Linked DNA regions of Homo sapiens. The protein of the gene in region 2 interacts with the protein of the main gene of each other region in a pairwise test. Each region holds a gene or a part of one and is shown on either strand. Other genes may lie near its edges.

Evidence for each region. The genes of interacting proteins can lie anywhere in the genome.
Region 1: the proteins of KDM5C (region 2) and REST interact in binary tests that used the Homo sapiens proteins (3 or more experiments, as listed by UniProt).

What each region holds. Positions count from the first base shown.
Region 1 is NC_000004.12:56,924,890-56,931,924, reverse strand, and holds part of REST (RE1-silencing transcription factor), read right to left. Parts: intron 2,085-7,035; coding exon 1-2,084. UniProt on the Homo sapiens protein: Transcriptional repressor which binds neuron-restrictive silencer element (NRSE) and represses neuronal gene transcription in non-neuronal cells.
Region 2 is NC_000023.11:53,208,189-53,215,223, forward strand, and holds part of KDM5C (lysine-specific demethylase 5C), read right to left. Parts: intron 6,660-7,035; coding exon 6,501-6,659; intron 3,719-6,500; coding exon 3,599-3,718; intron 3,468-3,598; coding exon 3,309-3,467; intron 2,670-3,308; coding exon 2,488-2,669; intron 2,389-2,487; coding exon 2,226-2,388; intron 1-2,225. UniProt on the Homo sapiens protein: Histone demethylase that specifically demethylates 'Lys-4' of histone H3, thereby playing a central role in histone code. Does not demethylate histone H3 'Lys-9', H3 'Lys-27', H3 'Lys-36', H3 'Lys-79' or H4 'Lys-20'.

The DNA of each region.
Region 1 (7,035 bases), on a different chromosome or scaffold from region 2:
GTTGTCACTTAGGTCACTTCCTTCATGGCTGTGGATGCCTTCATCTTCATCAATTTCCTGAGACTCATTTGCTGCCATTGTAGCAGGAGGTGATGCCAGTGCAGTTTTGGACACTGCTTCACGTTCTTCTACTGCTGAAGGGGGAAGCATTGGTGAAACTGGTTCTTCAACTGTTGAATTTATACCAGTGAGATTCTCTCTTGTGTTCTGATCAGTGTCCATTTTCATTTCACAAACTATACTGTCAGTCTGATGTTTACCATTTAAAGTTTCACCCTCTGGCGTATTCAAGTTTTGTCCAGAGGATGAAATATGGGTAGATTCGTTGATATTAGCAGCAAGACCAGGTAGGCTCTCATCTGCCTCTTCTGCTCCTACTTTCTGAAGAGGGGCTTCTTTATTTCCTTCACCTGTGTTGAGTAATTTTTGGTCTCCTGATGCCTCTTCTCTTAAATTTTCCTTTGGCAGTGGTGGTGATGGTGGTGAGAGATCCTCTGTGCTTACACTTTCCTTTAGAAGCCAGCTATCTTTAACAGGCACTAAGCCAACTTCAATAAGGACTTGCTCCTTCCGTGCCCTTTCACTCTGCATGTTAGACTTTTCCTTTTTATCTTTTCGGAGAGGAGGCTTTTTGGAAATTGGCTCCATGTGAAGGGGAGGCTCTCTGGGAGGAGGTGGCTCCCTCTGAGCAGGCTCCTTCTGAACCACCCCCATGGGAGGAGACAACTCCATCTGAACAGGCTCCTTCTGGACCACCTCTATGGGAGGAGACAGCTCTATCTTAACAGGTTCCTTCTGGACCACCTCCATGGGAGGAGACAGCTCTATCTGAACAGGCTCCTTCTGGACCACCTCCATGGGAGGAGACAGCTCCATCTGAACAGGCTCCTTCTGGACCACCTGCATGGGAGCAGATTCTACCTGGGCAACCTCCATCTGAGCAGGTTCCATGGGAGCAGGCCCCATTTGGGCAACCTCCGTCTGAGCAGTCTCCATGGGAGGAGGCAGCTCCATGTGAGCAAGTACAATTTGGGCACCCACCATCTGAGCAGGCTCCACGGGAGGCAGCAGCTCCTTCTGAGCAGGCCCCTCCTGAACCACCTCCATCTGAACAGGCTCGTCAGGAGCAGGCCGTATCTGGGCACCCTCCATCTGAGCATGCTCCATGGGAGGTGGCGGCTCCACCTGAACGGGCCCCTTCTGAACCGCCTCTGTGGGAGCAGGCCCCATCTGAGGAGGGTCCATCTGAGCAGATCCCTTCTCAACAGGTTCCTTCTGAGGAGGCTTACTGCTTTTCTTACTTGATTTATTTTTCAGAGTTTTCTTCTTTGTACTTTTTTTCATGCAAGTATTTTGCTTTTTATTCTCCTCCACTTTGCTGTCACCCTTTGGCACTTCCTGACTATTATTTTTGGATTTGCTTTCTACCTTCTTTTTCTTTTTTGTTGAAGATTCCTCATCATTCACAGGACCATGTAAAGAATGGCTGTCAACTTCCAGCTTCCTTTTGCTTTTCTTAGTTTTACTGAATTTTTCTGAATTGCTTCCTGTATGCACATCCATCTCTTTCACCTCTGTTACTGATTTTCGAGTTCTGGTAGTCACCTGGATCACTGACACATTATTAGAAGGCTTTTTCTCTTTTGAGACATCTCTTTTCTCTGCTTTGACGGACTTTTCATTTTTCTTTCCAGCCACATCCCCTTTTATTTTTGTTTGTTCTATTTCTGTTTTTTCATTGGTAATATTATCAGGCAAGTCAGCCTCTCGTTTTTTGGTTTTCTTTAGTTTCACTTTTGAGACATCCATTGTTTTATTAGGACAAGTAGGATGCTTAGATTTGAAGTGATACTGTAGATTACACTTCTTGGAAGCTGCATAGTCACATACAGGGCAATTGAACTGCCGTGGGTTCACATGTAGCTCTACATGTTTTTTGAAGTTGCTTCTATCTGCTGTTTTGTAATCACAGTGTGGGCAATTAAGAGGTTTAGGCCCATTGTGAACCTGTCTTGCATGGCGGGTTACTTCATGTTGATTAGAGGCCACATAACTGCACTGATCACATTTAAATGGCTTCTCACCTGAAGGCAAATCAAAAGTATGAGAGAAGACATAGATTAAGACAAATTCAAGATTAAAATATAAAGAACTGTATATGTAAAGTAACAACAAAGACTATTTAAAATGCTGTATCATGCACCTTACATTTACCATATTTATTTGTATAACATTTCTCTATCCCTTGACATTGATTCTCAAAAGAGAGGAATAAATCTCAGTTAACCACAAGCTTCAAAAAAGTTCAAGTTAGAGTCCTCAAGCACTACTAAAGAACAGAGATTCTTTAAGACATACACATATTGGCAAAGTTCAATTGGGCTCTGGATGTTAATTTGGAGGAATATTATCAACTTAAAAATTTTTTTGTGTGTTTAGTTAAATGCCTAATGGAGTAGAAAATAAAATTCTGGCCAGGTGCAGTGGCTCACAACTATAACCTCAACTCTCTGGGAGGCCATGGCAGAAGGACTGCTTGAGCCCAGGAATTAGAGAACAACCTGAGCAAAATAAATCAAAACAAAATTAACTTTGGGAGGCCAAGGTGGGCGGATACCTTGAGGCCAGGAGTTTGAAACCAGCCTGGCCAACACGGTGAAACCCCATCTCTACTAAAAATACAAAAAAAATTAGCTGGGCGTGGTGTTGCACACCAGTAATCCCACCTATTCAGGAGGCTGAGACACGAGAATTGCTTTAACCCAGGAGGCAGAGGTTGCAGTGAGCTGAGATCGCACTACTTCACTCCAGCCTAGGTGACAGCGAGACTGTGTCTCAAAGAAAAAAAAAAAAAAAAAATTAGCCAGGCATAGTGGAGTGCACCTGTAGTCCTAGCTACTCGGGAGGCAAAGGCGGGAGGACCGCTTAAGCCCAGGAATTTGAAGTAGCAGTGAGTTGTGAATGTGCTACTGAACTCCAACCTGGGCAACAGAGCAAGGCCCTGTCTCAAAAATAAATCAATACATAAAATTCCCAGCCAGGTGCGGTAGCTCACACCTGTAAATCCCAGCACTTTGGGAGGCCAAGGCAGGTGGATCACCTGAGGTCAGGAGTTCAAGGCAAGCCTGGCCAACATAGTAAAACCCCATCTCTACTAAAAATATAAAAAAATTTAGCTGGGCGTGGTGTTGCATGCCAGTAATCCCACCTACTAGGGAGGCTGAGACACGAGAATTGCTTTAACTCAGGAGGCGGAGGTTGCAGTCAGCTGAGATCCCACCACTTCACTTCAGCCTGGGCGACAGTAAGACTTTGTCTCACAAAAAGAAAAAAAAAAAAAAATTAGCCAGGCATGGTGGAGTGCACCTGCAGTCCCAGCTACTTGGGAGGCAAAGGCGGGAGGACCACTTAAGCCCAGGAATCTGAAGTAGCATGGAGTTGTGAATGTGTTACTGTACTCCAACCTGGGCAACAGGGCAAGGCCCTGTCTCAAAAATACATCAATAAATAAAATTCCCAGCCAGGTGTGGTGGCTCACACCTGTAATCCCAGCACTTTGGGAGGCGAAGGCAGTGGATCACCTGAGGTCAGGAGTTCAAGACCAGCCTGGCCAACATGGTGAAACCCTGTTTCTACTAAAAATACAAAAAATTAGCCGGGTGTAGTGGCAGATGCCTGTAATCCCAGCTACTCAGGAGGCTGAAGAAGGAGAATTGCTTGGACCCAGAAGGCAAGATTACAGTGAGCCAAGATCGCACCACTGCACTACAGCCTGGGCGACAAGAGCGAAACTTCGTCTCAAAAATAAATAAAAATAAAATAAAATTCCCATACTCCCTCCACCCTAAATTTCTTATGGTAAATCTTGAGAAAAATATCTTTCACTCTGGGCGATACTCCCAGATCCTAGGTGCAAAAGTTTTGAAATTCTGCTTTAGTCTGAGCAAAGGCTTTTTCTTGAAATTTAATCCTTCTGTCCGTCATGGCAAGAGCTGAGTAAATTTTCACTTAGCAAACTTCCTGCGCTAGCATTGCTATTTTAAAGCAAAAATATAGGCCAAGGTAATTATTCAGAAAACTTTCTTGATTTTCCCCCCACCTTTCTATAAAATACATAAAGGAACTAGGTAATGAGAAGTGGCACACAAATAGATATGGTATGTAAAATAAGCAAAGTCACAATCACTGATACATAAAAAACCAGAACCCCCACCCCCAAATTAAAGGCATAAGAGTAATACATTCTACCTGAATACATACCCATCTAGATCACACTCTAGTAAATATTACCAAATGGTATCCATACCCCACTGGTCCAATGGAATGCATAGTAGAAAAACGGAAATTGACATTTATGAAAATTCATCTCAAACATTCTCAAATTCATATCAAATTGTACTAAAAATTTTCATAAAGCAAAACTCAGACATTAGGTAAAACCATGTAGATGTTAAGTTTTACATGATTAGAAAATGCCTGGTGATAAAATAATCACCTTATCCAGGTAGTCAAATTAGATATTCAGCTGACTGGACAATTCTTCTCCATGTTGGTCTACTAACAGATTTACAAATATGCAAGTTTCTACAACATGCTACATTACTCTATACCTGGTTCTCTCCAGTGAATGATTTAAATGGAGACAAACATTTTAACATACGTGGACATAGAATGTAGAAAGATAGGTAGCATAAGGCCTAAGAACTTCTAGATAGAGCTAGACCATCTGGGAGATAAAACATGAGCTCTGCAAGTTGCTCACTCTGAGACTTTGAGCAAAGTCCTGAAACCTCTCTAGAGTTCAATTTCTTTCTTTTTTTTTTTTCTTGAGATGGAGTTTCACTCTTGTTGCCCAGTCTGGAGTGCAATGGCGCGATCTCGGCTCACTGCAACCCCCGCCTCCCAGGTTCAAGCGATTCTCCTGCCTCACCTTCCCTAGTAGCTGGGATTACAGGCATGTGCCACTAAGCCTGGCTAATTTTGTATTTTTAGTAGAGACGGCATTTCTCCATGTTGATCAGGCTGGTCTCGAACTCCTGATCTCAGGTGATCCACCCTCCTCGGCCTCCCAAAGTGCTGGGATTACAGGCGTGAGCCACCGCGCCCGGCCTCAATTTCATCTATAAAATACTCTCTAAGTGTTGTGAGCTATAAATAATCTAATCTATGTAAAGTCCTTAACATGGAGCAGACAGCAAGAACTCAAAATGTGTTACCTATAATTGTTCACTTTTGGAACCAATTGGTAACTTTGAGTATGGATAAATAAAAGGGAAGACTCAGCAGGGCGCGGTGGGTCACGCCTGTAGTCCCAAAACTTTGGGAGGCATTTTTGTAAAAATATAAAATTTGGGGAGGCATTTTGTAAAAATACAAAAAAATTAGCTAGGCGTGGTGATGCGTGCCTACAGTCCCAGCTACTTGGGAGGCTGAGGCAGGAGAATCCCTTGAACCCGGGAGGCAGAGGGTGCAGTGAGCCGAGATCGCACTACTGCACTCCAGCCTGGGCAACAGAGCAAGACTCCATCTCAAAAAAATAAATAAATAAAAAAGGCTGGGCGCAGTGGCTCACGCCTGTAATCCCAGCACTTTGGGAAGCCGAGGCAGGCGAATCAAGAGGTCAGGAGTTGGAGACCAGGAGCCGGAGACCAGTCTGGCCAATATGGTGAAACCCCATCTCTACTAAAGATACAAAAACTTAGCCAGGCGTGGTGGTGCATGCCTGTAATCCCAGCTACTCGGGAGGCTGAGGCAGGAGAATCACTTGAACCCAGGAGGCGGAGGTTACAGTGAGCTGAAATCGTGCCATTGCACTCCAGCCTGGACGACAGGGTGAGACTCCATCTCAATCAATCGATCAATCAAGGGGAAGACTCTTACGTATCCTGTCTTTCCTACATCATGAGTAAATAGATAAGTGGAATTTATCTCTTCTCTTCATATTTACACACTAATAAAATAACTATAATTAAAATAGCACCATTTTATAACTCTGATGAATAAGGAGATCTATAGAGCAAGCATGCATCCATCAAGGTGCGAGGGTCCACCTAAGGAATGGTGAACGGAAAGGGAGGATGTAGAAATTTTCTGTTTAAAATTTGATGGCATGATTTATTTGCTCCGTTCTTTTTCTCCCGTAATTTTTACTTTATTGCCATGAAGTCTTGCTTATATTAAAATATATTCATCAAGATTTTCTAATTAGTACCTACCTGAATATTAACTTTTGCCCTGTACAAACAATTTTAAATTCTTTTTCCCAATTCTAGTAACAGGTTCTCTTCTTTATAAATCTACCAATTGTCTGTTTTATGCCTCCGAAATGAATTTATAGGTGTAAGCCAAGACAAAAGGGGAAAGAGTTCTGCAAGCTTTACACATACGTATCAAAAATATTCTTAGAAGAATGGCCAGGCATAGTGGTTCACACCCGTAATCCTAGCACTTTTGGGAGGATGAGGTGAGGAAGATTGCTTGAGCTAAGGAGGTTGAGACCAGTCTGGGCAACCTAGTGAGACCCTGTGTACAAAAAAATTTTTAAATTAGCCACATGTTATAGCACAAGCCTACAGTGCCACCTACTCCAGAGGCTGAGGTGGGAGGATCGTTTGAGCCTAGGAGGTTAAAGCCGCAGTGAAAAATACACAAATACAAGCCTCTCAATTTAAGTTTTTAAATTAATTCCCTTAAAAATAAAAACAAAACAAAACAAAAACCAAGAGAGAATGGCAAAGAAATTTTTTTTTTTTTTTTTTTTGAGACTGAGTCTCGCTCAGCTGCCCAGGCTGGAGTGCAATGGCGCAATCTCGGCTCACTGCAACCACCGTCTCCCGGGTTCAAGTGATTCTCCTGTCTCAGCCTCCGGAGTAGCTGGGATTACAGGCACCCGCCATCATGCCAGGCTAATTTTTGTATTTTAGCAGAGATGGGGTACCACCATGTTGGCCAGCCTGGTCTTGAACTTCTGACCTCCGATGATCCGCTCACCATGGTTTCCCAAAGCGCTAGGATTACAGGTGTGAACAACCGTGC
Region 2 (7,035 bases):
TGGAGATGCTGTGAACTACCTATAGGAAGGGCAGGGCAGACAGAGGGCTGGGTGGTAAAGTAGCAGCTGGCCAGAGAAGATGATGAGCCACGAGCAGGAGAAATGCTGTGGAGGTGTAAGCAAAAAGCACGTATTTTGGATTCTGTGATAAAGTTTTTTAAAAAGCGGTAAGGACTAAACAGCTCCATGACCTTCTGCATATGTATATATACATATATATACACATACATATATATATATATATATATATATATACACACACACATATATATATATATGCCTCTTAGCTACCCAAATCCTTCAGAGAATCCTTTTTTTTTTTTTTTTTTTTTTGAAATGGAGTCTCTCCACCTGTTGCCCAGGCTGGAATGCAATGGCACGATCTCGGCTCACTGCAACCTCCGCCTCCTGGGTTCAAGTGATTCTCCCGCCTCAGCCTCCCCAGTAGCTGGGACTACAGGCACGTGCCACCACGCCCGGCTAATTCTGTATTTTTATTAGAGACGAGGTTTCACCATGTTGGCCAGGCTGGTCTCGAACTCCTGACCTCAGGTGATCCGGCCGCCTCAGCCTCCCAAAGTGCTGGGATTACAGGCATGAGCCACCACACCCGGCTCTTTTTTTTTTTTTTTTTTTTTTTTTTTTGAGACAGGGTCTCACTATGTTGCCCAGGCTGGAGTGCAGTGGTACAATCTCGGCTCACTGCAACCTCTGCCTCCCGGGTTCAAGCGATTCTCCTGCCTCCTGATCCTGAGTAGCTGGGATTACAGGCGTGCGCCACCATACCTGGCTAATTTTTGTATTTTTAGTAGAGACTGGGGTTTCACCGTGTCGGCCAAGCTGGTTTTGAACTCCTGACCTCAAGTGATCTGACTGCCTTGGCCTCCCAAAGTGCTGGGATTACAGGCGTGAGCCACCGTGCCTGGCCAAGAGAATCCTCTTTTACAGTTTTCCATGGCATTATAGACAAGGACTGATGCTGTGCTATGGGTCAGGAAGAGAGAAGTCTAAGGAAAGTCAGACCCCATGTCTACTTGTAAAGCAGCAGAACTCAAGCCCTTGATCATCATCCTTAAATGGGGTGAGGTAGAGAGAGAAAAGGATAACTCCCTGAGTGGAGGAAGATTGCCTGAACTGTTATAGGACACCTCCTTCTGTCCAATTCCCTAGATATCCCAAGTCCTTGGTTAAATATCACTAAATTTTATAATAAAAAAATATTACTCATGGGGCATATAGTATACCAAAACAAGGAGAAGGCAAAAAGAAATGCAGGTGAGAACCACTGACCTAGTCCAAAGCCCTACTGTACAGATATCTAGGAATATCTGAAGGAGACATTAATTCAGTATTTATTGACTATCTCATACATTAGAGTAAGTGGTAATGTGTCCAAGGCCAAAGAGCGTGGAAGGGTGTAGGGAAGAGTAGCAGCCCCGGATAATACTTAAAGCAGAGATAGAGGATCTACTAATTCCTGTTCTTACAGGACTAGTGATCAGGCTGTTTTAAGATCCACACCAGAAAACTGGCTGATGCTAATCAATGCTAGAAATTCCCAGGAATATAAAGTCTCTCACAGGTAAGCCATGTTGTATACCCAGCAAAATGTTTTAAAGGGTAAGAAAGAAGTACACAGAGGATAGACCAGAACTCTGGGTTCAACTTTTGACCTGTTAAATAAAAAGACCTATCCACTGCTCTGAGAAGGGTAAGAGTATACAAAGTATGGCAGAGGCTGCTAGTTGTACCTCGATATTCATTCTTGTCTTCTGTCATAACAACATGACCTCCAGTTTTAAGTGGTACTTGACCATCCAAAATAAGAATTACATTTCCCAGTTTTCCCTGCAGCTAGATGTGGTCATATGACCAAGTTTTTACTAACAGAAGGTGAATGGAAATGATGTGTGCCTTTAAAAGATTTGTCTAGCCCTGCACTTCCCCACTTCCCTCTTCCACTGGCTGGAATGTAGATGTGATAATAAGCCACCCCTTAGCTGTTACCGTCAAACACATGGCCCAGAGGGCATACCATCATACGGTGCATCTAATCACTATTATTTTGGGTCTCTACTAGACTAGTCAAACCCGTAGCCCAATTAAGAACAGCAATGAAGAAAGGCCAGGGGCAGAATACAGATGACAACCACCGCCACCACCACCATCACAAAGGACATCACTAAATCACTCCTGCCGCTTGTCCCTGTTGCCTGGGTACTCACTGGCACACCATGGGACATGAGGGTGTTGGGATTCATGAGGGTGACAAGTTGGTGCAGGAGGTCAGGCTGGCTATCAAATAGTTCAGGTGTCAGCTTCTTCATCACTTCTTCCAAATGTTCTGCTGCAAGTGAGGGCACCCCATACCAGGTCTTCGGCTCACCCCTGCACAAGTGGAAAAGGGACACACACAGTAAATCACACCTTGGTCATGCAGGGAGCCCACACTGACTTGATTCCCTGGCTCCCCAGGGTCCCACTCACCAGTGGAGGTAGTTAATGGAGTAACTCCAGTGATCCTCAATATGCCAGCAAAAGGCTGAGAAGACCATGCCCACGTAGAGCCAGGGCACCTTCATGCCAGAGATATCTGCATTGATGTGGCACAGTACAGACTGTTCCAACACCGGCATCACATTTAGGTTCCAACCACTGGTAGCATACTCCTGCCAGGTCAGGTATTTGTAAAAAGGGCATGAGGGTTATGCTAAGGAACTGAGATCTTAAGTCATTTTCTTTAGCCTAGGGAACCTTAATTTTGAGGTCAGAGACTTTTTTGAAACATCTTAAGAAACATATAGGTTTTCTCCCTACCTCTCCACCAAAAAGCATACACACAAAATTTCAATTGTATTCACTTCAATTTCTACGAAGTTTACCGATATATCCACCTACCAAAATACCTGCAAGTTAAAAAAATCCTGCTCTGGATCAAAATGTACCCTTTCTTGGAAGCACAACTAGGCCCTCATTTTCTCCTGTGCATACAAACCCCACTCCCTGAACACTACTTATGGATGAGCCAGGATCTCATATACCTTCTCATTTAATTTTTATAACAAATTTGCAAAGTAGATATTATCCCCATTTTAAAGATAAGGAAATGGGCTCACAGAGGCGAAAGAACCCATCTCATGTTTGTACATGCCAGGTACCAGACTGTTTTCTTTCATCTCATCTAAATCTCATGGCTACATAAGACAGGCATAATTATCCTCATCTTACAGAGATACTGAGTTTTTCAGATACTAAATGATTTGCCTAAGCTCACACAGCTGACACGTAACCATGAATCATCCACTCACCTCCTCTTCGGGGGTTAGGTGCCGTTTACTGTCACTGACAGGGAAACCGCTGCCAAATTCTTTGGAATGGATGTCAGCTCCATACTCAACAGTCACATCTTCCTCAATGCTATTTACCAGCCTCCAGAACTCCTTCTCCACAAGTTCTGTGGGCACCATCTGGGGGAAGACAGGTAGCAGATGACTATGGCCCATCACACCCTGGACCCACTGATCCAGGTGAGCTGAGACCATCTGGCATCAATACCTATGATCCTAGCCCAACACTACCTCAGCCCTCCATCACCTACATGCACGGGCATGTTGAAGTAGTCAGCTTTAAAGGAGTCGGCCATCTCGCCAAAGCTCTGCAGAGTGTATTCCCGGGTAGCCTGCTCAAAGCCAAAGGCTTCTGGGGGCCGCTTACACTCCTGAAACCCAAAGGAGAACATGTCACCAAAACAGAGGCAAAGAGGTGAAGAATCCTCCCAAGTGGAACTGGAATATAAGGGGTAGGGAGGGAGAAGAGCCCTAGGTCTGCACTCAAGGCCCCTGAGGCAGGCCTTACTTTACAGCTGTACCTTTTGCTCTTACCACTTCGGCTTAGTCTTTTCATTCCCCATCATGCTTTTGCTCAGTTCCTCCCTACTGAAATGTCCTTTTCCACTTTCTTTCATTGGTTCCTCAAAACTCAATTCCAGTCTCACAACTTCCAGGGAGTCATCTCATGCTCTTTTCTTCCTTTAGGACTTTATCTAAATGGCTCTGACTTTAATATGCTATCCTGTGTTCTTCTGCCACCATTTTTCCTCTCTAGCTAAAATGTGATTCTTTTTTTTTTTTTTTTTGAGACGGAGTCTTGCTCTGTCACCCAGACTGGAGTGCAGGGTCACAATCTCAACTCACTGCAACCTCCGCCTCCCAGGTTCAAGCGATTCTCCTGCCTCAGCTTCCCGAGTAGCTGGGATTACAGGTGCCCGCCACCACGCCCAGCTAATTTTTGTATTTTTAGTAGAGATGGGGTTTCACCATGTTGGCCAGGCTGGTCTCAAACTCCTGACCCTGTGATCCGCCCGCCTTGGCCTCCCAAGTGCTGGGATTACAGGCGTGAGCCACCACGCCTGGCCTCTAAAATGTGGTTCTATGCAGGGTGCTTAGAGAAGGTTTTTTATGCCCAGACTAGAACTGTAAGGCTGGGAAAATGGCATTGAATATTCCAGTACCTTGAAAGATGGAAAACAGGGCCGGGCATGGTGGCTCATGCCTGTAAACCCAGCACTTTGGGAGGCTGAGGTGGGGTGGATCACCTGAGGTCAGGAGTTCGAGACCAGCCTGGCCACCATGGTGAAACCCTGTCTCTACTAGAACTACAAAAACTAGCCAGGTGTGGTGGCAGGCGCCTGTAATCCCAGCTACTCAGGAGGCTGAGGCAGGAGAATCGCTTGAACCCGGGAGGCAGAGGTTGCAGTGAGCAGAGATGGCATCACTGCACTCCAGCCTGGGTGACAGAGCAAGATTCTGTCGCAAGAAAAGAAAAAGAAAAAAGAAAGATGGAAAATGAAGACACTGGCTTTTACAGTATCAAACCCTCCACTAATCCTGTTCTTGAGACTGTCTCAGAAGATAGGATGTGGGTCTACCTCATTTTGTACCTATGTTCATTATTTTAGATGAGAACAATATGTACCCCAAAATCAGACACACACCATGCTTATGTTTGAAAAATAAATGTCCGTCTGGTCCACTGACTTATAACCACTTAGAGAAGAGAGTCAAGTAGAGTCGACAGTCTTGATACTGTTGGTATCCAAACTCCTCCCCAACTAGAATCTCCACCACTACCAAGGCCAATATGCACTGCCCTGATTTTTCCTCATCTGTGTATGTCTGTCTGTGTGTATGTATGCATGTGCACACCCGGTCTCTACAACCACAGTTGAGTCCCTAAGATAAGGCGAATGTCTGCTCTACAGAAATCCAGAGGGAAATGTAGAAGGTAAGTACCGAGAATTTGGGTGAAGGTAGGAAGTTCATGAAATGTACCTGCCCAACTTCCTGGCTGCTTGGCCCTTACTGCTGCTTCAGCTGCTCTCCTTACTGCCCCTATACCCATAGTAGGCATGCTCTCCTGCTATACCTCTGTTCCTGCTAGTCCTCCACCTCCCAGTCCTGAACAGCCAACCACCTCTCTAGTTAAAGCCTGTAGCACTGCCTCAATCTAAATATAACAAGAGGAAAACAACTAAATAAATATTATACCCATGATACACCATCTAAAAAAATTCCAGACCTTAATTAAACTTAGTAATATAGAGAAATGGTTATAAAGCAACAAATGAAAATATATAACAAGATCTCAAACTTGTTAAAGATAGTTACATATAAGTAACAGCAAAAAGATGAGAAAAAAATATATCAAACTATTAACAATGGTTATCACTGGGTGGTGGGAACACAAGTAATTTGCCTATTTTCCAAAATGTCTTTTTTTTTTTTGAAGACAGGGTCTCATTTTGTTGCCCAGGCTGGAGTGCAGTGGCATGATTTTGGCACACTGCAACCTCCGCCTCCTGGGCTCAAGCGATCCTCCCACCTCAGCCTCCCGAGCAGCTGGGACAACAGGCGTGCGCCACCATGCCTGGCTAATTTTTGTATCTTTTTTGGTAGAGACGGGGTTTCGCCATGTTGCCCAGGCTGGTCTCAAACTTCTGGGCTCAAACGATCCGCCCACCTCAGCCTCCCAAAGTGCTAGGATTACAGGCGTGAGCCACCGCGCCCGGCCTCAAACTTTCTAAAAAAGAAAAAAAAAAACAAAACAAAAACTCAGAAATTGAAAGAACATTTTTTTCTTAATATTCCTATCCTTCAAGTCTCATTTCTGACATTTTCCCTGATTATTACCCTTAGCTATTTTCCTCTCCTCTGAACTTCTATATCTCAGAGTTTCTAACACACAATTTAGCCTCTGTTTATATGTCACCACATATAGTCTAATTATGATGCTTACCTCTCCAGGTGGTCTGGGAGCTCTTAGAGGACAGAAGCAAAGGCTGAATCTCCTGCTCCTTTCTCCCAAAGCTCTGCCCAGCCTAATCCCACCACAGAGACCCAAAACCTAAGACTATGGCTGAGCTAAGAGGCTGCCCTCAATAAGGCCAGATGAAGGAAGGCAAGGAAGCCCTATGAGGCAGATGTGGAGTGGGGAGGCCTTACCGCCATGACACACTTTGGGCACCGCCAGACACCCTTGGGGATCTCAGGCAGAGGAGGCAGCAGGCAGAAGATGTGGTAGTTGTCATCACAGCCATCACACAGCAGGAGCTTGTCATCCTCATCCCCTCGAGAACACATCCGGCAGACATATGACTCAATCTGCCAGGGGAGAAGAGCAAAAGTTCTCCATTGGAAATCCACTGTGTTTGCTGGCTGAATGATTTACAGCCCTGTATAGGCTAGTCATGCTAGGTCTGGAGCTCAACTGCACGTATGTACCATCTCCCCAAATAAGCAGGTAGAGCTGCAAGAGCAGTCTTTTATCATCCAGTCTTGAATCCTCCCATTTTTATTCATCCAATAAACACTTACTAAACCCGTATTCAGAACTACGCTGGACTCTAGCACAAAGACAAGACATGGTATCCTTCCAAGTATATACAGTACTCTAGAGACATGTGTTCATAAAAATTAAAAATTGCCAATAGCGGTCCATAAAGGGCACTGTGGGAGCCTAGAGAAGGAAGCACTCAAA